3 separate regions of the Homo sapiens genome follow, and regions 1 and 3 are each linked to region 2. Evidence: fine-mapped expression QTL. A gene starts in region 2. Each other region holds a variant in brackets. All regions are shown on one strand. Distances are from middle to middle. Region 1 has its middle 14 kb from the start of MRGPRF-AS1. Region 2 holds the start of TPCN2 (two pore segment channel 2). Region 3 has its middle 29 kb from the start of MIR3164.

Region 1 (8,566 bases), 51 kb after region 2:
ACAAGCTTTCTTCCCCTCCATCCCCCCGCAAAGCCCCAGGATTCCCACACCTCCCTGGACCACCTCGCTCTCTGTGCTAATGGAGGGAGACTGCACAGATGATGAGATGAGCGGGAACTGCCCGCTCTCCTCCACTTTCCTCCTCCTTCCTTTGGTATTTAATTATTAAAGTGGGCTTGGGAGGAGCTGAGGGCTGCGGGGGAGATTTCCATCCCACAGCTCTGGGAAAAGGATCCACAGCAGGTCACAGAATGGAGAGTGGGGCATGGGACCAGAGCATCTGGGCTGCCCTGGTTGTTACAAAGCCGACTTAGTAACAACCATGTGGTATGTGGGAAGGGTGGGGTGAAGGGGCAGGGGTGGGGCATCAGGCAGGGCAGAACTCTCCACTTTTCCGTGCTGTCTGCCACCCACTATTTCTATAAAAATAAGCTGCTCTTTTAGATTATGCAAGGGATAAGCAAGGCCAAATTTGGAAAGTCAAGAGCAAGCCTCAGGGAGGCAGAGGGCTGCCACCTATAAGCCATGGGACCTCAGTCTTGCTGTGCCTCACTTTCCTTGGATAAGTCAGCTACAGCACCGACCTCCAGGAGTTGGTGCAGTGGCCTGGGGTGGCAGCCGGTGTGCCTGATTGCCCTGGTCGGGCGTTCAGGGCAGGGAGCAGAATGGCCACTGCAGAAGGGATGTGCCTGTGAGTGGTTTGTCCCCAGCACCAATCTGCTGTTTGCGGACATACTATGGGCAGTGGGTGCTGGCCAAGAGCTGCACGTAGGTTTTCTGTTGACTGTCCATGCAGGGCTACATGGCCCATACTGTCAGCCCCAGCTGTGGAAGTGGGGGCTCATGAATGGAGTTTCTCATCCAAGGTCAGTCGCGCTGGTGGACGGCCCTGGCTGGAGGCCTACATCACCATCCAGGGACTCCCCACAGTGGCCCTCCTGTTGCCCTGGAGGCTCAGGTCTCTGACCTTCCATCTCCCATCTGCAAAGCACTGGACACTGGGGTTCCGGGCAGATGCACGGAGTGGCCTGGACATGCCCATCACAGCCCTAGGATAACCCAGACGGGCCATCGAGACCTATCCACACTCTGTGGAGACCAATGGAGGAAACAGCTCAGTTTCAGGCTGTGGGCGTCTGAATCAAAGCGGGGACTGGGAACAAGGTGCTCAGCGGACACTCAGCAAACGGCCTGAACGCCGACGCCTCTCCCGTCTCTGTCTCCTGTCTTCACAAAAGGAAAACGGAATGCCTTTCTGGCATCCACCCAGCTTTCCCGGATCCCCTGCCAGTTGTCATTTTCAGATAACTTGAATTTTATATTTTATGCCAGGATTTTTAAGCCCCCAGGATCTTTTCACATCTGCACAGCTTGGCTTGGAATCCTCAGCTAGGACCATCCTTCCTCCCCAAGAACCAGGGCCTCATCTAGAAGGTAGGGCAGGGAAATGAGGGTCCACATGTGGTCCGGCCCCTCGGCATACAGGGAGATGACCAGGCCTGGGAAATGTGCCCTTCGACGGGCTGGTGACAAGGCCAAAAAGCTGGGCAAACACATTGCAGAGATCCTCCCAAACTAAAACCACTGAGAGTACAAGTGCAAAACATTCCCTTTTAAGCCAGTAGGGGCTTGACAGCTGGAGAACTTGAAAACAACAGGGCACAGTTCACAAAATCAAAACTCATGGAAAACTCTGCGCGGGTGAGTCAGAGTGCCAGCGCCAAGTTTCCTGGCATGCAAGAGGAGGCTCCCCCGCTCAGGCAGATTTTTTTAAACATCTTTTTAATAAATTGAATTGAGACCTAATTTACATAAAATAAAACTGACCCATTTAATATCCAGTTTAATTATCTTGGACAAATGTTTATGTGCCCATGTCATCAGAATGTTTCTATCCCTGCGGAAGAATCGCTTCCATCATCCCCCCAAAGTTCCCTGGCACCACTGGGCAGTAGGTCCAGCCTTGGGCACAGCCCTGCCCCGACCTGGGTGGACCATCCATCTCTGCTTTTATGCCACTGTAGATTAGTGTCCCAGGCAGACTTTTACACCATATCAGACAGGGTGCTTGGTGGCAAGTAACAGAAACCCCGGGTTAATCTAGCTTTGGCATCTGGGGTACATGGGAGGTATGTGTGTATTTAAGGGAGTTTACTAACTCACATACCCAGAAAGTTCCAGAAGTGATTCTGGCTTCAGACACAGCTGGATCCAGGGCCGCAGATGATGTTCGCTAGGCCACTTCTCTTTTCCCTGTTTTCATCCCTGTTTTGGTCTGTGTTCTATTTATTCTCAATGGAAAAACTAAATGGCAGGTAAGCGGCAGTTCTCGGTTTATCTTCTACAAATTCTGCAATCCCAGCAGAAAGAGCACGCCCTTCCTGGAGATTCTAGCTTAAGTCCTGATATCAAGTGCACTGGCCAGGCCAGGGGCACACACCCTCCCAGGAGCTGGAGGCAGGGATGGGGGACAGGGGGTGACAGTCACCCCACCTTAGCCCAGTGGACTGAAAACAGGGAAGAGGTGCGCCCAAGGTAAAACTGGCAAGCATGGCCGGGTGCAGTGGCTCATGTCTGTAATCCCAGTATTCTGGGAGGCCAAGGTGGGTGGATCACTTAAGGTCAGGAGTTCGAGACCAGACTGGCCAATATGGCAAAACCCCGTCTCTGCTAAAAATACAAAAATTAGCCAGGCGTGGTGGCAGGTGCCTGTAATCCCCGCTACTCGGGAGGCTGAGGCAGGAGAATCACTTGAACCTGAGAGACAGAGGTTGCAGTGAGCTGAGATCACACCACTGCACACCAGCCTGGGCGACAGAGTGAGACTCTGTCTCGATAAATAAATAAACAAACAAACAAACAAACTGGCAGGCAAACAGCAGGTGTTGGCCACGTTCCTCCCCTCAGTCCACCCTCTACGTGCCCACTTCTTTCCTAAGTATGATTTTTAAATGCTCCCAGCCAAAATCTGTAGCTGTATAATTTACAACATAAAATGCCTGCCTTCCCCACAGAAGAGAGATGACCAAAGTCAACCGCAGGGCCTGCCTCCCCAGCTCCGAGCCCACACCCTGGGTGTTACTCACGCCACCCTCCGTCAGAGCCACAAACACCTCCTCTTTGAAAGGTACTTGTAGTACTTTCTGGGGATGCTATCACCCATTCACCAATACCACAGACTGGTGGGAGCACTTAAACAATAGAAATTTTCTTTCTCTCAGTCCTAGAGTCCAGAAATCCAAAATCAAGGTGTGGCAGGGCTGGTTCCTCCTGAGGCCTCTCTCCTTGGCTTGCAGACGGCCACCTTCTCCCTGTGTCCTCACAGGGTGGTCCCTCTGTGCCTGTCTGTGTCCTCACCTCCTCTTATCAGGACTCCAATCACACTGGATTCAGGGACCATCCTAGTGACCTCATCTTAACTTCATTAACCCTTTAAAGACCCTTTCTCCAAATATGGTTACATTCTAAGGTACAGGGGGTTTGAGGGTTCAACATACAAATTTTGGGGAGACCCCGTTCAGGCCACAACAGTGCCCTTTGGCCAAATGATGGTCACTCTCCAGACACACAACACGCAATGGAAAGGAAAAAGGAAATAACAATAATTTTTTTTTAGAATTCCCACTTGGAAAGGAAAAGGAAAGAACAAAAACACGTGGTGGTTGTTGGTCTGTGGCATATTCTGTGCTAGGCAGGAAACCAGCAGCGCAACGGGGGTCTTGGTCAGCCCACCGATGTGGCGGCCAGAATCCAAGACAGCCCCCAGCAATGCCGTCTCACCCTCGTGTCATCCCCTCCCTGTGCACATGGGCTGTACCAAGTGGCTTGCTTCTAACCGATGGAACACAGCAAAGCTGATTAGGCTGCACAGCACTGTGACTTGCATCTTGCTAGCAGACTCTCTCCCTTGCTGGCTTCAATGAAGCCAGCTGCCGTGTTGTGAGCTGACATATTAGAGAGGCCCCTGTGGCAAGCCATTGAAG[G/T]CAGCTTTTGGCCAACAGCCAGCAATAAACAGAGGCTCCCAGCCTGGCAGCCGGCAAAGAAACGAGCCCGGTCAACAACCACATGAACTTGAAAGCAGATTCTTCCCGGAGGGAGGCTTCAGATAAGACATCTGCAGGGACCACTCCTGATGTCACATGTTCTTTAAAGGCCTGGGGAAGCAGAGCTGAGCTGCCTCCTGACACGTGTGGCCCAACACAGAAAGTGGGGCTTTACCAACCTCACGGTGTCATCCCACCAGGACCCAGCCAATTGCATATGTAAAGGCAGGTATTTGCAACAAGCCTCTTTGCCTCTTTCAGGTATTAGTTTCTCCACTGGTCAGGAATCTTTGTTGCAAATGACAAAAACCCCATTGAAACACACACACACACACACACACACACACACACAGAATGCACTGGCTCCTATTACTAAAAAGTCCAGGCAAAGATGGGCTTCAAGAACAGCTGGATCCAGGTGCCTGGATCTGGGGACTCTGTCAATCAACTAGCAATTAGTCAAGAAATGTGAGCATCTCTACATGCCAGGCAATGTTCTAGGCACAGAAGGCACAAAAAATGTGAGAACTGCCACCTTCTGGAAGCTTATGTCTTTCTGAGCAGCCTGTCTCTGTCTCTTGGGTCTTGGCCCATTCTCAGGCAGGATCTCCCCTCCTGGAGAAGAGACAGGCACCATAGGTCCAGCACAGCAAACCCAGAATAAAGAGGCCAGGGAAGTCCTCACTGTCACTGCAGAGTCAGCACCGCCCACACCCCTAAGACTGTCCCCCAAGTCAGTTGCCTAGGGTTACTTCTGTGATCAGCCTTAACGTCTGGGGTCCCCGCTTTTTCTTTCCTCATGCACATTTGTTCAAAGCAGATGCCCAGCATCTCCCATGCCTATACCTCCTTCCGCTGCAGGGCGGGACAGTGAGAATGAACACCATGCTAGCTCGGGGACCGTCCTAGAGACTCAGCCATCCGCTGCACCACCCATACGGCCCACCCGGCACCTGCTCCAGGCCAGCACCCTCACAGGGCAGGTGACACGGATAAGATGCCGGCCTCCATCCTGCCCTTGAGGGGACTGACACATCAGAACTCTTCCCTCGCCAGGCAGGAAGGGGGCCTCGGCCGGTGTGGGGGAAAGGGCTGCTCTACCATCTGCCTGTGTGGCATGTGTGTGAGCTCCCCTTCTTTCTAGGAATTGAGGGAGGCCCTGAGGGACTACAGGCATTTTGGTGAGGACTTTGAGGCTCAGAGACGTCACCTGAATGGTGTGGTTCCCCAACTCACAAGCAGTGGAACTCAGACTGGAAATAAGATCCTGGGCTCCGGGCCCAGCTCTTCTTCCTCCCCATCCCTCCGTAGGCAGCATCCTTAGTGAGTCCATTAGCCAGAGCATCTCCCCAGGCAGGCAGTTGGGGGTGGCTGTAATAGCCTTTCCCAGCCCACAAGAACCCCCATTTCCTCCATGGCTTCACCTGAACCCCCCACGGTGGGTCTCACTAATGCTGTGAGGTCTCCTCGGCCATCCCTGGTGGCATTCAGGAAGGGAGGTATCACCTTTCCTTGAAGGCCCCAGCCTCATCCTCCATTTCACTGCCGCCAAGCTGTCTCCTGTGGGGGCCGGGGGTTCATGCTCAGGTCCATTAGACTTCAGCTGGCTCTTCTGGGCCAGCACCGCGGTACCCACGTGCAGAGGCCCTGGCAGGCGGGGCCGGCACCCATCCTGCATTTATACCTCAGGCCCGGCTTCCCACTGCTCAGAGGGAACCTAGCGAAGATCATCAGGGGATCCTGGGGACAGGCTCCTCTGAGCCTGGGGGCAGCCCTGCCCAGCGGGAGAGAAGCAGGCAGCTCAGGCCAGAGCCAGAACAGGGCGAGCGGCTCAGGGGCCTGGGCCTAGGTGGCTGCTGAGGCCTCCAGCACTGGAGTGGGCAGGCACCAGCCACCTTCACCGAGGGACCACACACTGCATCCAAGACAGGTGAGAGGCCTGTTTTTTGCAATCTGGGTGAAGGCAGGAGAGCGTGGGGGACAGAAGCGATGCTTTGCACCCCGTGGGACGTTGGGGGAGTTCCTGTTCGGCCAGGGTAGCCAGGTAGCCCAGCAAGTGTCTCAGCTTCTCTGAGCCCAAATAAAGCAGAAATAATGAAACCCACCTCAAAAACATTCAAAGCGCGGATGAGCTCATGTCACCAACCCTGGGACCTGCCACCTCAGTGTGCAGCACAGCACGGAGAAGCGTCGGACAAGCTAAATTCAAGAAGACATAGTTTGTTTTTGAGAAAGCAAGCTTACGAGACAACCAGGCCCTATATTTTCATTTATGTAAAAAACATATATTGATAGGTAAATGCACAGAAAAAAAAATCTTCAAGGATTTATAGTGATACCTGGGGGTGAAGACAAGGGTAGACCTTCTTTCTTCTTTAGCATTGGAAGCTTTCAAAATAAGAATCTTTGCATCTTATCTGTGTCGTTTTTAAAGATGTTTAAGGCACAGGGAGAAAGGGACAACGTCATACTAGCCGTGGGAAAGAACACATTTTTGTGTCTTCAGTGGCATGGACAAAAGGTCAAGCAAGGCTTTTGAGGACAGGAATCCTAAAAGTTAACATGAGAGATTCTCTATTGGAAAACTTACTTGACATTGAATATGAGAGGACAGTTTCCAACCTAGTGCCTTCCCCAACACACACACACACACACACACACACACACACACACACACACTCACACTCCTCAACACATTCTAAAAATCAGGCTCCATTATTGGCCATAAGGCAGTGGAAATAGAAAATACTTTTAAAGGCCAGGCGTGGTGGCTCACGCCTGTAATCCCAGCACTTTGGGAAGCCGAGGTGGGCGGATCACCTGAGGTCAGGAGTTTGAGACCAGCCTGGCCAACATGGTGAAACTCCGTCTCTACTAAAAATATAAAAATTAGCCAGGTGGTGGCAGACGCCTGTAATCCCAGCTACTCGGGAGGCTGAGGCATGAGGATCACTTGAACCCAGGAGGCAGAGGTGGCAGTGAGCCAAGATCACGCCACTGCACTCTGGCCTGGGCAACAGGGCAAGACTCCATCTCAAAAAGGAAAAAAGAAAATACTTTAAAAATCTGAAATATTGTCTGGGCGCGGTGGCTCACACCTGTAACCCCAGCACTTTGGGAGGTGGAGGCGGGCAGATCACGAGGTCAGGAGATCGAGACCATCCTGGCTAACACGGTGAAACCCTGTCTCTACTAAAAATACAAAAAAATTAGCCAGATGTGGTGGCAGGCGCCTGTAGTCCCAGCTACTTGGGAATCTGAGGCAGGAGAATGGCGTGAACCCAGGAGGCAGAGCTTGTAGTGAGCCAAGATCAAGCCACTGCACTCCAGCCTGGGCAAGAGAGAGAGACTCCATCACAAAAAAAAAAAAAAAAAAAAAAAAAATCTGAAATATTTTAAACCCAACAACTAGGGAATCAAAGCATAACACGAACATACCCCACAGTGTGAAAGCTTACACACAGGAAACGCTTGGAAGGATCCATTCCCAAAGGAATTATCTCTGGTGGTGAGATTATGAGCAATTTTTCTTTTTCGGTATTTTGAGTATCTATCCAGCGTCTCCAATGTGCTCTACAGTAAACACAAATAACCTTGGTAATAAGAACAAGACCCCCAAATTTTAGGAGGTGCTCCGTCTCAGGGCTGTGCACGTTCACCTCCATGGGTCCTGACCCGGGGCGGTCACTGCTATTAACGCCTCTCCTCCCAGGGGTCTCCACGGTCTCTGATGTGTTCAGTGGCCAAGCAAAGCAGCGCTGAGCACACTAGAACACTGTAAACACCCCTTGACGCCGTGCGGCCGTCCCCGGCCTGAGTGATGATCACCTCCCCCCGCTGCGGTACCTCCTCGAGGCCTCGTTCAGCATCGATTAGTGCTGGGGGCAGGAGTTGGCATAAATCGGGGCTTCTCTTGGCTCTGATGGGGATCAGGAGCAAGCTTCAAGCTCAGAACCTCTAACAGAGCCCCAGAGCCACTCAGGGGAACCGTGGGACCCTGAGGAGGGTTGAGCAGTCTGGGGTCCCACTGTCCATCAGTCCATCAGTCCATCAGGCACTCAGCCAATAAACTCTGAGTGCTCATGATGTGCTGGGCACGGGGCCCCCTGGCTGGCCCTGGATACCCCCGCACCCTTCCTAGGAAGAGAAGGCTGAGAGCAGAGCCACCTGGGGCCGGGTCCCCGCTGTTCCTGCTGTGTCGGGCTCAGCTGGGAAGGCGTCTTGTGGGTGGGCTCCACTTGCCCTCTCCCAAGTCCAGGATCAACCCCTCAATGAGCAGTGTGTGGCGATGGCACTCTGCTCTCTATGGTGGGCACACCTGCGCCAAGGGGCATAGGAATTTCCTGTGGCCGCACAGACCGGGCAGCTTAAAGCACAAAGCTCCTCTCTCATGGTCGGGAGGCCAGAAGCCCAGAATTAGGGTCGGCAGGGCCATGCGCCCCCTGAGGCTCTAGGGAGCCCCTCCTTGCTTTTCTGGCTTCTAGTGGCTCTAGGCGTTCCTGGGATGTGGCTGCATAAACCCA
Region 2 (6,695 bases):
GGCTGACACTTCCCAGCACGGGGAGAGGGTGAAGCAGCTGCTTTTTCAGTTGAGACTCGGCTTTCACACCTGGCCCCTTGGGGCCCACAGCTGCACCAAGACAATGTGGTGACATGGGAGGCAGCAGCAGAGGCCTCAGGAGGTGCTGGTCCCCAGGCAGAGCTCCAGGCCATGACCCGCCCACGCCACTGGCCATCCTTAGGGAGGCAGCTGCCCCTGTCCTCGGGGCTCCTGCTTGGGGGCATGAGGTATAGGCAGCTGGGCCCTGGACGGATTAGAGGTGTGAGGGGCCCCAGACAGAGGCAGGAGACCGGACCCCACCCTCACTCTGCCCGGCCCTGCTGCACTGCCGGGAGCAAGAGCCTTCCCTCCCTGTGGCTTTGGTGCCCACATGCACAGCCACGAGACCCACCCTGAGGACACCCGAATGTCTCCCCAGGGAAGCTCTGAAAGTGGCTACTGTTTATGTCCCCTGAGCACATCCTGGGATCGCTATGAACAGAAGCCACACTGTTTTGTTCCCTGCTGTATCTGCAGAGCCCAGAAGTCAAGCACACAGGACTCAAAGCTGATATATCCCATGAATAAATGAACAGCCCTGAGGGGAGCCTGGGGGGCCGGTGATCTGAGAGGCCCCACCTTACCAGATTCCCTGGGAGAAGACAAAATCTCTACCAGGAGAGATCTAGTGATACAAGCTTCTTAGACAAGAGACAAGCGGCCGAGTTCCGGGCCTCACTCCAGCCCCAGGACCACGGAAAGTACTCACATCCACCCAGGCCAGCCATCCCAGGCCAACAGTGGTGGGCACCCCTGGAACCATCCAGCACTCGTGGTTCCCTTTCGCCTGGCTTTTTGGTTGCTGGTTTGTAAAATTCTGGGTCTGGCCATCCTCCGTTTCACCCTGCAACAGCCCAAGGATCTCGTTCCAAACACTCAGAAGCACATCGCAGCTTCCCCTGGGCCCCCACTATTCCAGGCCCACACTCCACCCTGGTCTGGCACTGCAGGTTCCCACATTTGCCGGCCCGCCTCTCTCCTGCCTTTCAACCCTCAGTGCCACTCATTCCGAACTGGGCTCTGCCAAGGCCATGCTCTCCAAAGCCTCCAACCCTTTACTCAGGCTGCTGCTTCTGCCAGGAGCACCATCCCCCAATTTGTGAGTCCAGGGACTCCCTTGGGACAGCTCGCCCCGCCCTGAGCTCATCACCCTGGGGGACAATCACCTTTCCACACACCATCACCCACTGGGGCTGAAGGGTTCTGCAAGGCACAGAGGACAGCAGGGGCTGAGATGCTGCATCCGGCACACCAGGCCTCGACACGGCTTCCTAATCCAAGCCTCTGCCCCGCAACATCCAGGTCTGAGCTCCCGCTCCCCTGTTGCTCCAGGCTCCAGGCTGCACAACCTGTGTAGGGTCCTGACCATCATCCTCTGTGACCCTGGGCAAGTCCCTTAACCTCTAGGTGCTCCAGGTCCTCATGGACCCCCACCCAATAGGAGCTAAGTACAGACTGAATGACTTACTATAGCCAGAGTACTTTGCTAAGTGAGCCCTTCATAAGCATTCAGTTACTCTGAAAGCCTCTACAGCATCGCAATCCCTTGTCCTCTGACTTGTTTGATAACCAGTAAAAGTGTGATTTTTCTGACCCAGCAACAAGAGAAAACAACTGTTCTCAACCTTTGACCCCGGCCCCATCAGGTGGGGCCAAGTCAAAACGACCCAACAGCAGGGTCCACTGGGGTCCTTGGGGCACCCACAGCAGCAGCCCTCACCACAACCCGTTGGCAAGAGACCAACCACAGGACTTGCAAACCAGAGCACAGGGCCTTCATTTCAAAGCCTGGCACAGGCCTCAGCACAGAGACTGAATGAGCCTTTCGGAGTCTCCATGGCTCCATAGTCTGCCAGTCCTTGCTGGGGACCCTGGCCAAGGGGATTCAGAACACAGAGCGTCCTGTCCACGTTCTCAGAAGCCCTGGCTGAGGCCACAGCATAGGGACAAAGAGCGCTCCCCGAGAGCCTCCTCTTGTCAGCCACACTGCCCAGCAGAGCGGGTCTCACCTGCCAGGGAGGACCTGCAATGATCACAGAGCTTACCCAGGACGGCCACTGGCCCCCACACCAGCCCGCCGGGCCCTGTGCTGAGGACAAACTCTGGATTCTCTCTGAATCCTCACAATGCCCGCCAGGCAGTCCTTAGTATTATCTCCCTTTTACTGAGATTCGGAAAGGTGAAGCATGGCCAGGCACAGTGGCTCACGCCTGTAATCCCACCACTTTGGGAGGCCGAGGCAGGCAGATCACCCGAGGTCAGGAGTTTGAGACCACCCTGGCCAACACAGTGAAACCCCATCTCTACTAAAAATACAAAAATTAGCCAAGTGTGGTGGCGGGCGCCTGCAGTCCCAGCTACTTGGGAGGCTGAGGCGGGAGAATCGCTTCAACCCAGCAGAGGTAGAGGCTGCAGTGAGCCGAGATCACGCCACTGCACTCCAGCCTGGGTGACAGAGTGATACTCCATCTCAAAAAAGAAACAGAAAGGTTAAGCAACCTGCCAAGGTCACACAGCCAGTGCAGCCCCAGAAAGGCGCCCAGACCCCTAGACACAAAGTCTGTGTTCCCTGAACGGTGCCATATGCTGGGCGTCTCATCAAGGGGCCTGCCAGAGCTGCTCCCTGCAGATCTCCTTCCTGACTGGTCCCAGGAAGCACCTGAAGAACTTCCTGGAGGCAGCTTCTGAGGTGAGCAGACAGGGTGGCCACCTTGGCCTCTGGTTTTTCATCTCTCGTCAGGGTCCCCTCCTTGGCCCCTCATTACTCCATGGATGGGCACATGCCACAGACCAGTGGGTGGGCACCAGGATTCCAACCCAGTTCCTTCCAGACAGAGGAGGAAAGAAGGAAAGAGAGGCCAGAGAGGGAAGGAGCCAGGTGTGAATTCTCAGAGTGGTTCGAGCAGCAGCCGCACCAGAACAGAGGGCTGTGACCTTGGGCAGGTCTCAGGGCCTCTCTGGGCCTCAGTTTCCTCATCTGTGAAGTGAAGCTAAGGTCCTTCCACCTCTTAATCCAGAATCTCATTCCCCTGGTGTCAGCGAGGGGCGGACGCACCCCACCCTCGGGGGGCGGATTCAGCAATCTTCAGACCAGGACAAAAAACGGGAAGGGCAGGAGGGAGTGCAGAGGGGACTCTGGGGTGGCAGAGGGCAAGGAGAGGAAGCCGCCCCCGTCTAGGGGGCCCGCCCCAGCCCCACGGGAAGTGGGACGGGGAAAGGCACCCTACAAAGAAAGGACTCCTAGCTCCCAACTGGTTCGAATCCCACCTCGGCCACTTACTGGGTGTGTGACCTTGGGTAGGGTAACGCCTCTCTGTGAGCCTCTGCTTTTTCCAGAAGAAACGGGAAAAATCAAAGTGCTGCCTTCTCTGAGTCAATTAGGCGACCCTCATTACGGCGACAGTCGGGAAGTATGGGGTCTGGGCCCGCCCGGGCACACGGAGGGTGCCTGCCGCAGGTGGCCGGTTCCCTCGGGGCTGCCCAAGGCTGGGCGAGGGCCTCTTCGCCCAGCTGGTCGGGATCAGGACGCGACACGGAAGAGACCCCAGCTCTGCCCTGACCCCGGTCCGGGTCCGCAGGACGCAGCCCACTCGCCCTCAGAACACCGGCTCGCCTGGCACCCGGCGCGGCCCGGGCCCCGCTCGGACTCGAACCTGGTGGGGGCGCGCCCGGCAGAAAGCGGGGTGCTGGGACAGCGGGACCCCCACGCGCGACCCTGGTCTCCCGGGCCAGTCCCCTCCCCAGGTCCGGGCGGCTCACCAGGGCCGACTTGGATGCTGCGGTAAGTGGTCAGCCCCGCCGGCCAGTCGCCGCCACCGCCGCGGGCCCCGCCCAGCAGGGGCTCCGACTCCGCCTGGGGTTCCGCCATCCAGCAGCCCACGCGCTGGACCCGACCCTCAGAAGCTCAAGCCCCGAAGGCGCCCAGCTTCACTGCGCAGGCGCGGAGACCCCGTCCCTGGCGTTTTTGCTGACGCGCGCACGGCACTGTGGCGCAGGGGATCCCTGCAGTCCCAGCCAATGAGAACGGGGAGGGAGGGGTGGGGTTCTCCTGAGTGGGGCGGAGCTAAAGGGCCCCGCCCCTCTAGGGTGGAGCTCAGCTTCGTTCCACCCAGGGCGGGGCAGCGTTCTGGGGCTTAAGGGCCGAGGGCTGGGGAGGAAATATGTTCTCAAAGGATGTCTTTCCGGCCAGAAGCTTCAGCATCACCTGGAAACATTTTAGAAATGCAAATTCTTGGGCCCTTAAACCTACTAAATCAGCAACTCTGCGGGGAGGACCCAGGAATCTGTGTTTTAACAAGCATTCGGGGTGATTCTGATGCATGTGAGTATTGAGTACACGGGGTGACTGCAAAGGACTCCCCCCAGAATGGAACTGGAGTTTACCCTCTGATGGTGAAATTAGGAGGATTCAATATCATTAAGGGAAAAGTTTAAAAACATATGACACACTTAAAAAATATTTACAACGTATATAAAAAGTGTTTTCAACATTAATGCATAAAGACCTTGTATTCGTTTTCTATTGCTACAGTGACTAATTACCACAATCTGAAAATATAAAATAACTCCCATTCATCATCTTTCAGTCCTGCGGGGCAGGAAACCTCCTGTCTCAGGGCCTCACGAGGCTAGAGTCAAAATGTCAGCTGCCGTGGGCTCTTATCTGCAGACTCTGGGGAAAGCCCACTTCCAGGCTCATCCAGGATGTTAACAGAATTGTCTCCATGGGCCTAGGACTGAAGTCCACGTCTTCTTGCTGGATGTTGGCTGGTGTCATTCTCACTCCTAGAGGCCACTGCATTCCTTCCACGATGGCTTGAACACCTCCATCATCAGAGCCAGCAAGCAAGAGCACGCTGAAGACGCTTCGAGATGCAGCAAGACGCCTGTAATCCCAGCCCTTTGGGAGACCGAGGCAGGTGGATCACGAGGTCAGGAGATCGAGACCATCCTGGCCAACATGGTGAAGCCCCGTCTCTACTGAAATACAAAAAGTTAGCCAGACGTGGTGGCACGTGTCTATAGTCCCAGCTACTCGGAGGCTGAGGCAGGGGAATCGCTTGAACCCGGGAGGCGGAAATTGCAGTGAGCTGAGATTGCGCCACTGCACTCCAGCCTGGCAACAGAGCGAGACTCCATCTCAAAAAAAAAGGTGCTGCAAGACGCTTCCAATCTCTGTGACTTCCCCTTCTGCCATACCTCTTTACTTTTTCCCCCTCTTTTGGGGAGGGGGGAGGGTTTAAAATAAATATAAAATTTACCATCATAACTGTGAAAGGAAAATAAATCTCAGGACTCCAAAATCACTAAGCCAAAGGGAAAAGTCAAGCTGGGAACTGCGTTGGGCAAACTGCCTCGCCTTTTCTTCTTTAATAAAATAGCTACGAAGATTTAAAAAGCTACATACCTCCCTCACAATTTGCCCGCTAGGAAATTTTTCGTGGGCACCCAAGATCTTTACCCTAAAACAGTTTTGTTGAATTTTACCCTAACAATGTACATTGACAACTGATCTTCACAGGTTCCAAACAAAGGATGGAACTCTAAGTCATCCCTCTGCTCACCTGATTGCTTCCTCTGGTATAAAAGTGCAGATTCACCGAGCCAGACTAAGGCATAAGTGACTATTCCTCTACCCCCGCAACCTGTAAATTGTGTATTTCAGTGAAAGTCTGATCAAAGACTCACAAGAATGCAACCTTTGTCTCTTATCTCTCCACATATTTTTAAAATTTCTCCCTCTTTCCCAATATCCACCCTTTCCCTTTTTTTTTTTTTTTTTTTTTTTTGAGACAGAGTCTTGCTTCGTTGCCCAGGCTAGAGTGCAGTGGTGCGATCTCAGGTCACTCAGCAACCTCCGCCACAGCACCTGGCCAGTTTCCCCTTTAAATATTGAAGTCCTACAAATCATCCTTGAAGGAAGGCATAGACCTGCCTCCCAGGCACTCCTTAACCTTGGCAAAATAAACTTACTAAATAGATCGAGACCTGTCTCAGATATTTTTAGTTCACATAACTATATTGAAGTGTACAGCTCATTGATATTAAATATATTAATGATGCTATACAACTATCACCTCCAACTCCAGAACTCTTTTTATCTTGCAAAACTGAAATTCTGGACCCATTAAGCACTGACTCCTCATTCCCTCAGCCCCTGGAAACCACCATTCTCCTTTCTATCCCTAAGATTTTGGCGACTCTAGGTTCCTCATTTAAGTGGAATCCTGCAGTATTTGTTCTTTTGTGACTGGCTTATGTCATTTAGCCTAAAATCCTCAAGGTTCATCCATGTAGCATGTGTCCAAATTTCCTTCCTTTTTAAAGCTGAATAATACTCCACTGTATGTATCCATGACATTTTGCTTATCCAGTCATCCATGGATGGGCACTGGGTTGCTTCCACCTTTTGACTATTGTGAATAATGCTGCTGTGAACATGAGTGTACAAATAATTCGTCAAGACTCTGCTTTCAGGCCAGGTACAGTGGCTCATGCCTGTAATCCCAGCACTTTGGGAGACCAAGGCAGGCGGATCACCTGAGGTCAGGAGTTCGAGACCAGCTTGACCAACATGGTGAAACGCCGTCTCTACTAAAAATACAAAAATTAGCCAGGCATGGTGGCAGGCGCCT
Region 3 (8,566 bases), 63 kb before region 2:
GCTACTCAGCAACCTCCAGTCACTGCTGGAGGGGGCCGGCCAAGCAACACCAGGTCCTCTGGAAATTGAGATGAATTCATGAAACCTCCTGTAGCGGCCTGCATGGTGGCTTCGAAAGACGTGTCCACGTCCTAACCAAATGTGGCCCTATTTGGAAACAGGCATCTGCAGATGCAATTAAGGACCTTGAGGTGAGATCATCCTGGAGAACCCAAAATCCAATGACCAGCCTCCTCCTGAAGGCTCAGAGGAGAGACACAGGGAGAAGAGATGGGGGCCACATGAAAACAAGGCGGAGACTGGAGCGGGGCAGCCACAAGCCACAGGGCACCTGGAGGCACCAGGGCAGACAGAGGCCGGGGTCCCTCCCTGGAGCAGTCGGAGGGAGCGCAGCCCTGCCTACATCTAGATATCGGGCTTCGGCCCCAGCACTGGGAGAGAAGGCATTTCTGTGGTTTCCAGCCCCCACCAGTTTGTGATCTTTTGTTACGGCAGCCGCAAGAAATCTCCCAGCTGACACGGCCGGCTCGTTTCTTTCACTAGTACTGAAGGCGCCAGAACATATGTCACGGCCACCCTTGTCCTGGGGGTCCCGGCCAGCAAGGCCTGGACTCCAGATCACAGCCCTGCACTGGAAGTCAACGAGGAAACAGCCCCCAACATGTGACGTCGAGGAGGCGAAGCCCACCTCCCAGGCCGCAGGCTGCTCTCTGGAGAGTGGACGGTGACACGCCTCCTTCAAGGACCCTGGCTATGACGGCCTTTGTAAACTGCAAAGTGCCTTCCAGGTTACACGGTGGGGTTATGAATGGGACTGAGTTCCTATCTCCCGAGAGTGAGAGTGCGAGTTCCTGACCCATGCCCCACCCCAGGAACGGCCAGGGCACAGAGGCCAGTGCCGGGAGCCGGACGCTGAAGGTCCCGCAGTGGCCTGCAGCACCCCTGGGGCTGCACCCGCCTGCTGGGAGAGGAGCGGCCCCGCCCTCCCCCAGGGGAGGCGGCCGTCACATGGCAGAGGTGCCAAGCTGGTGAAAGGCCGCCCTCCCTGTCCTGGCACCGCCGTCCACTGCAAATGCCTGGCCAGAGTCGGTGCCAGCAGCCTTCAGGGGCTGTCATGTGCCCAGGCTGCTGGCAGCTGCTGGTCAAGGGGCCTTGCCCTCCCTCTCTCTGGACACACCTTTGATTCGGAGGAATGTGTGTGTGTGCTTTTTATTCCTTGAAGGGGAAAAAGCTCTCTCTCGGCAGAATTCTTCCCGGGACCCCGGCTGCTGACCGCTGGTGAGGGGTCCTGGGAAGGTCAGGCCTCCGAAGGGACCTCCGCCCCTGCCTTCCCACCACCCTCCCTGACACCGCGAACACACTCCGTGCCTTCTGTTGCTTGGGAAGGATTAGAGGGTCGTGGCTTTAAATCCCACCTCTGAGATTATAAATCCTGGAATCCAACCCTGCCTCCGAGCTGGTGACCCTGGGCAAGTCCCTCCATCCCCCTGACCCACAGCTTGTTCATCCACATCATAGGGATATTCCAGAGGGCTCGACAGAGGACTAAGCACAGTGAAACCGTGCTCCTTCTCAGCTCCACAAGGGCACTCTGAGAGTTTTCACCTTCCGGGGGTTATTAATGATGACGCCAGGGCGACAGGTGTCGCCCGGGACTTTGGGGCAGACTGGGATGTTTGGCAGGCTCTGATTAAATAAGATAACGTACATCAATAAGATAACATCCTTGGCTCAGGCCTCCTAGCAAGTGCTCCGCAAACACTAGTGATCGCCACTCCCAACTTCTCCCAATCCAGGCTACGTGCCCGTGGTCCTGTCACCAGCTGCTCCAAGCTTCAGTCTCTGTAGGACAGAGCTGATCACTTGGAGCTGAGCCTTCCTAGGCCACGCTGGTCGCAGAGCAACTGCCCTGCAAGGGAGTTTCATTTATTCATAATAAATCCTATGTTAAGGCTGAGAGTGAGAAAAGCCTTTTTGTTTCTGGCATTTTCTCTCCTAAGCAAAGCCTGGTGCAGACAGAAGGAAATCATGATCCGTCCATCTCAGCACCAGGAGTTCTCGGTGGAGGGCCCATTGCCAGGTAGAGGGACTTCTGGAAGAGCAGCCATAGGTTCCCAAGGAGCTGGAGGTCATGCGCCAAAGGTGCAGGTTTTGCTGGGTTCACAAAGGGGCCGAGGGGCAGGGGCCCAGTGACCACCTGGCCTCAGGCCCCAGAAGGACCCCTGTAGGCAGCTCGGCATCACCAAGGGCAGCTCCCAAGAGATCATCAGGAGCCTAGAGGCCACCCCCATGTGAACAATGGGGCCCTGGATCCCTACGAAAGAGGGTGGCAGAGCTGGACATGAAGCCGGCACCTGGCACAGGTCCTTCTCTTTCCTGGGTGAGGCCTGGGGCTCTCCCATTCTGGAAGGCATGAGCATAAAAGCACCTCCCTGTGGCACCCCCAGCCCCTACGCCCGGGGGCCAGCTTGCCTTTTTGCTCCACACACCAGGGTCATCCTCACGCAGTCAGGGAAAACATCCCTACCCCTCGGTCCCCACAATATTCCAAACCCATCACTGAGCACTTCCGAGCGAGAGCTGGGCCACAGCCTCCCTGACCTTCCAGAAGGGCTGTCGCACAGCCTGTTTGCTAACATGAAAAAACCGGGCTCAGAAAGGTTAGGTAACTTGTTCAGATCACACAGCTGCGAGGGCTGGGCTCGAGCCCAGGTCCATCTGGCTCCACCGCCTATGTTCTGGGCTGAGCTATAAAACTGCACACCCCTCACCCACCTCCCCACATACTGGTCCGTCTATCCCTCGGCCACAGTGCTCAGAGCTGCCTCTGGCCCCAGAATGCATGGAGGTGGAAGGAGACCCAGGAGGAAATGAGACTCATGGAAAGGGAATAACGTGATGAATGCAGCACTAGAGCCCAGAGACAGGGACAGGGGAGGCCTCCTGAAGAGGGGCGTCGGGGTGGGGCAGGTTGGCCAGGTGGGGACGAGGGGACAGCAGAGGGAACAGCAGTGGACACGCACAGAGAGAGACAGCAGAGGGAACAGCAGTGGACACGCACAGAGAGAGACAGCGGTGCCATGTCCAGGCAGCTGCAGGACGTTCTCGAGGCTGCCCTGAGTGAAGGTGTGGGGAAAGGAGGGGCCGGGCTTCGCTGGGCATTCTAGGCTCAAACCAGGGGTTGGGGCTTTTCTCTTAGATTGAATCCTGAAGAGCCATAGACAGTTCTAAGCCCAGGGTGAGTGACAACACTGACCATTTGGAAGTGCCCACCAGAGGCCACGTGTCCCAGAATGAGAGGAGTTAGAACAGGGAGTTGCCGGGAGGGGAGATGGCACTGAGCTGAGGGCGGGGAGGGAGAACAGGCGGCCTAAGGAGGTCTGAGACGGGACTGGGCGGCAACATGAACCAGCTGGGGGTGAGACCGGGAGCCCACACACTGAAGGCACATTGGTTTTTAATGCCTTGCAATTGCCTTTGATTCTGCAAGAGAACGACATTTCTGGAAGCTCTGCTAGAAAATCTGATTAGTGCAAAACGAGAATCTATTCATGAGTGTGGCTGCTCCCCAACTCCCACCCCATCGACCTGCCCAACCCTCCTGTCCAAGAAGCCGCCTGAGGATTCCCAACCCGACCAAAAGCTGCACTTTGGCACGAACCTTTTGTAGGTAGAGAACGTCAAAAATGCAAGTCTTACAACGAGGACAGGACAGTGTCCTGGCCAGGCCTGGAGGCCGAAAGGTGGAGAAGAGGACACCCAGACCCCATGGTTGTCCAGGACGTAGAGAGAGCCCCTGTTTTATTGCTGTTTTTGCTGGGGGGGTGGGGAGGAGTCTCGCTCTGTTGCCCAGGCTGGAGTGCAGTGCCGCGATCTCGGCTCACTGCAACCTCCGCCTCCCGAGTTCAAGCGATTCTTCTGCCTCAGCCTCCTGAGTAGCTGGGACTATAGGCGCCCATAACACCTGGCTAATTTTTTGTATTTTTAGTAGAGATAGGGTTTCACCATATTAGCCAGGATGGTCTCGATCTCCGGACCTCGTGATCCGCCCAACTCAGCCTTCCAAAGTGCTGGGATTACAGGCATGAGCCACCGCGCTCAGCCTGATTGCTATTTTATTCTGGGGGAAACACACCAAAGTAGGAATGTCAGAATCAAATCA[T/C]TGGTGCCTTTTTAGGGCAGACGCCCACAGTCTTGTGAAGACACCATGGTGAAGGGTTCACAAGGGGATTGAACTCCCAGAAAGGATAATGAAGTGTTCACACCAGAGCCTGAGGGAGCCAGGGAGGCCTCCACATGGGCCCCAGCCCTGGCATCAGGAGAATTCGCCCCACCCGCTGGGGAAGGCGGCGGCCCACCCAGCCATGGCCCAATGGCCAGGCGGAATCAGCACGCTGGGCTGAGCTATCTGGGGCCAGAATTCGGAATGCCACACGTAGCAAACAGTTAATGATCAACTGGTCACCCCTATCCAAAAGACCTAAAACTAATAGGGCTATAAAATGTGTAAAATATCTGCCCCCGACCAGACCAGACAAGACAGCTTAGGGCAGTGAACATTTCTCTGTGTTCCCTTTCAATAACCTTGTGCTGGGAGGCAGGCCATGGGGCCACTCCTGTGGGAAAATTTTCCCGAAGCAAGCCATTTGGTCAGAAAGGCTTCCCATGCTCTCCTCAGCACCCCGTCCCTGGCCACGACCCCTCTCCCCTTGCAGCCAGAGCTGAAGGGACACAGATTCTTTCCCAAGTTGCACATTTTGGGAAGAAGGCTGGAGTGTTTTAAATGAACCATGTAAATGCCCCTTGAAGGGGAAAGGAGGGCGCCAGGGGAGTGGGAGTGGACCTCCCATCCATGCACAGGCCTTCGCTCTCCTGTCCTGACACAGAGAGTGACTTCTGCTAGAGCTGCTGACTTCTGCCAATTTATATGCTAATTCCAGAAATGATTCTTCCTACATTAAATAAAAGCTGAGGAATGTTCCAAAGGTCTGAACAGACTGTACCATTAACAGACAGAGGAGAGCTGCGCAGGCCCTGCCCACAGGAGTTTTGAGCGTGTGAACTTGTGTGCAGCTCACACTCTTGCCTAATTTTAGGCGCACGTGCTCCTTCGGCTGACTTGCCAAAATAAAACTGCTTCGGCATCCAAAGCCTCCCCATGCCCATCTTGACCTTGTGGTCCCCTTTTGGAGTAACCTTCTGAGAAAGCAGAGACTGCAAAACAGAATTGGAAGGGGGCCACATTGAGTTCACACCCCAGAGTGATCACCTGACCCTGAGTCTGTCAGCATCATCAGAGTATGGCCCCCCGACCCAGTGCCTGAGCCCCCCGCCTCCTCCACAGCCTCTTCATTTTCCCCACCCACCCCTACAGACACCAGTCTTCCCACTTCAACAAGCCCTTCCTTCTTCAGACGCTTTGCACATTCTGTTCCTCCCACTGGGACTGCGCTTCTCTGCTCCCGACCAGGTCACTCTGGCTCATCCAATTCATCTCAGCTCACTTGCCAGAGAAGCCCACTCTGAGCACCAGGTGAGGGGGGCCTGGTTATACACTCTTAGTGAGTGCTGTACCTTCCTTCCTGGTGGTCCTCACAATTCTAGTAGATTTGCATAATCATTTCTTCAGAGCTTCCCAGCCTCCTGAGAGCAGGAACTAGGATCCATCCTGTATCCCCAGTACCAACAAGAATGTTTGTCATAGACTACAAAGAGGGAAGTAGGGAGTTTGGATAGATATTTGGGGAATGTTTGGATGGATGGATGGATGGATGGATGGATGGATGGATGGATGGATGGATGGATGGATGGATGTATGGATGGATGGATGGATGGATGGATGGATGGATGGATGGATGGATGGACAGACGGATGGATGGATGGATGGATGGATGGATGGACAGATGTTTGGATGGATGGATGGATGAATGGATGGATGAATAGATGGGTGTTTGGATGGTTGGATGGATGGGTGTTTGAATGGTTGGATGGATGGATGTTTGGATGGATGGATAAATGTTTAGATGGATGGATGGATGGATGGATGGATGGATGGATGGATGGATGTTTGGATGAATGTTTGGATGGACGGGTGGATGTTTGGATGGATGAATGGATGGATGGATCGATGTTTGGATGAATGAATGGATGGATGAATAGATGGATGTTTAGATGGATGGATGGATGTTTGGATGAATAGATGGATGTTTGGATGGATGGATGGATGAATGGATGGATGTTTGGATGGATGGATGGATGGATGTTTGGATGGATGGATGGACGGACGGGCAGACGGACGGATGGATGGATGGATGGATGTTTAGATGGACAGATGGATGGATGGATGGATGGATGAATGGATGGATATTTAGATGGATGGATGGATGGATGGATGGATGGATGGATGGTGGGTGGAGAAAACTGGTCATACCCCAGAAAGACAACTGTCTTGGTAGAATAATTTGTATTTCCTGCCTTTCTCTCCCTAGAACTCTACAAAGGTCTCAGTCAGGGACCCCACTGGCTGTGTCCCCCAGTCGTAGCCTCAGAGACAGAGAACCCCACCAGGCCAACCTCTTGGCCCCATGTTTTCCAGCACTGTGCACTGCTCACACAGTTCTCTCCTAGAACACTTGCACTTCCAGAAGCCCTCTCTCCCAAGGATCCCAACCTCTTCCTCCAAGTAGATGCTAGGGCACTGCATCTGCCAACTTCTCTCTCTTCCATGCCAGGACACACTGAACTCAGCCTCACACAGGCCTGAGGTCTGTGCCAGAGTTGGCCACTTCCTAGCTGATGACCCTGAAGCCACAGACTTTCCTCTCTGAGCCTCGGTTTCCTCATCTGTATAAAGGGCCTCATAAGGGAAAGTAGGAAGGATTAAATTTGATAATGTGTGCCAGATGCCAGTGCTGTGACTGATACAGGAGATGATTAACAAAGTAACATGAGGATTGATGTATTGATTGATTTATCAATTGATTGATTTGCAACTCTGAAGGGAGCAAGTGTTCTTCAAGGCAGCCAGGTGGGAGATGCCTAAAGGCAGAGCATGGCAAACGGTGGTGCTGCCCTGTCTTGATCTTGGTCAACACCTCAGCTATCTCCCACCTCAGAGTGAGCAAGAAAATGGCCACATCTCCCAGCTCTTGATCTAAAGAGTTTGCAGTGCCTGATTAAAGTGATCAGTTGTCTCCCTTGCAGACTCAAAAATGCCTGGAGCCACCCCTGCAGATCCTCACTTCTCACTTCTCCACTGCACAGCTCAAAGGCCATGGACATCCCAGCCATCAGGACTCAGGGCGAGCCTTAACAGAGTACATTGGATCTCATCCTTCCTCCACTCAAACCGCCAGGAGCTCCTCTGCTCCACACAAGGCCCCTTCAGGGAACCTCGAGGAGCTCAGCATGCCCCACCTCAGGGCCTTGGCATGTGCTGCTCTGTCCTGAGGTCTCCACTGGGATCCCTGCCTCCCTTTCCTTGGATGTGTGTTCCTTCATCAGCCAGGCCTGCCCTGGCCCAGGCTAAATCTCCACTGGAGCTCACCACTGCCTGATGCACCAGACACTTGGTCTGCTTCTCCTGGCCACTCTGACTAGAAGAGCCCACCAAGGCAGGCACTTGGGTCTGTCTTGTTCACAGCCATATCCCCAGCCCCTGGCACCCAGCAGCATTCAATAAATGGTAATTGAATGGATAAATGAATGAATGAGGAGGTACCTGTTCATTCATTTAATGCTAATACTAATACTGATTAACAATAATAATAGCAGGAGCCGGCTCTTCACAGATGCTGGGATTCAAAGGTAAACCAGACATAGTTCGCATTTTCAATAGTCAACAAATGTGTAATTAGCCAATAAATAAGTTAATAAGTGATCAATAAATGCATGATCATAGACTGTGGTGGGGCTCCCAAAGGGGCAGGGGCAGGTGCTTGGATGGGCACCAAGGAGCTCCTCCCCCAGGGAGTGGGTCTGAGACCTGAAAGGCGTGTGAGAATGAGAAAAGCGTGTCGGCAGAACAAATGTGTACAAGTCTCCTGCAGCTGCTGTAACAAACCATCCCAAACTGGGTGGCTCAGAACAACACAGACTTATTTTCTCAGTTCTGGGGACCCGAAGCCCAAGACCCAGGTGTCAGCAAGGCCGCCCTCCCTCTGAAAGTGCTAGAGGAGGGTCCTTCCTGACACTTCCAGCTCCTGGGGGCTCCAGGTGTTCCTTGACTGTGGCCACATCACTCCAGTCTCTGCCTCTGTCTTCGTGCATCCTCCTCCTCCTCTCCGTGTCTTCACCTCTTCTCTCATGAGACACCTGGCATTGGATTTTGAGCCCACACAGATAATCCAGGATGATCTCATCCCTTACCTTAATTTCACCTGCAAAGACCCTTCTTTCCAAAAAGGTCACACCCACAGGTTCTAGGTTAGGATTTGGACATACGTTAAGGGGGTCATCATTCAGCCCAATCCAAACATCCTGGACAAAGGCCCTGAGGCTGGGAGGTGTAGTGCTGGCCAGTGACATGGCAGGGGTGGCAGGCTCACAGTGGGCAGGGGCTCGTGCA

Evidence for each region. PIP is the estimated chance that this variant, and not a neighbour inherited with it, causes the effect. A credible set is the group of variants that fine-mapping cannot tell apart.
Region 1: its variant is the best candidate, but not a certain one, in a credible set for the expression of TPCN2 in whole blood (TOPMed, PIP 0.90).
Region 3: its variant is the best candidate, but not a certain one, in a credible set for the expression of TPCN2 in prefrontal cortex (BrainSeq, PIP 0.64).

Annotation. Positions count from the first base shown.
Region 1 is chr11:68,994,046-69,002,611 of GRCh38, reverse strand. No RefSeq gene overlaps it. Among named protein-coding and RNA genes, the nearest start is that of MRGPRF-AS1, 14 kb to the left of the region's middle. RefSeq lists an enhancer at 1-202 and a silencer at 7,780-7,946. The variant G/T (reference allele first, on the strand shown) is at 3,984.
Region 2 is chr11:69,046,231-69,052,925 of GRCh38, reverse strand. TPCN2 (two pore segment channel 2) reads right to left here and starts at 3,994. Exons shown (of 25, transcript NM_139075.4): 1 at 3,820-3,994. The coding sequence starts at 3,928. RefSeq lists an enhancer at 1,016-1,590 and silencers at 3,567-3,666, 3,747-3,916, 4,037-4,256.
Region 3 is chr11:69,108,246-69,116,811 of GRCh38, reverse strand. No RefSeq gene overlaps it. Among named protein-coding and RNA genes, the nearest start is that of MIR3164, 29 kb to the right of the region's middle. The variant T/C (reference allele first, on the strand shown) is at 4,163.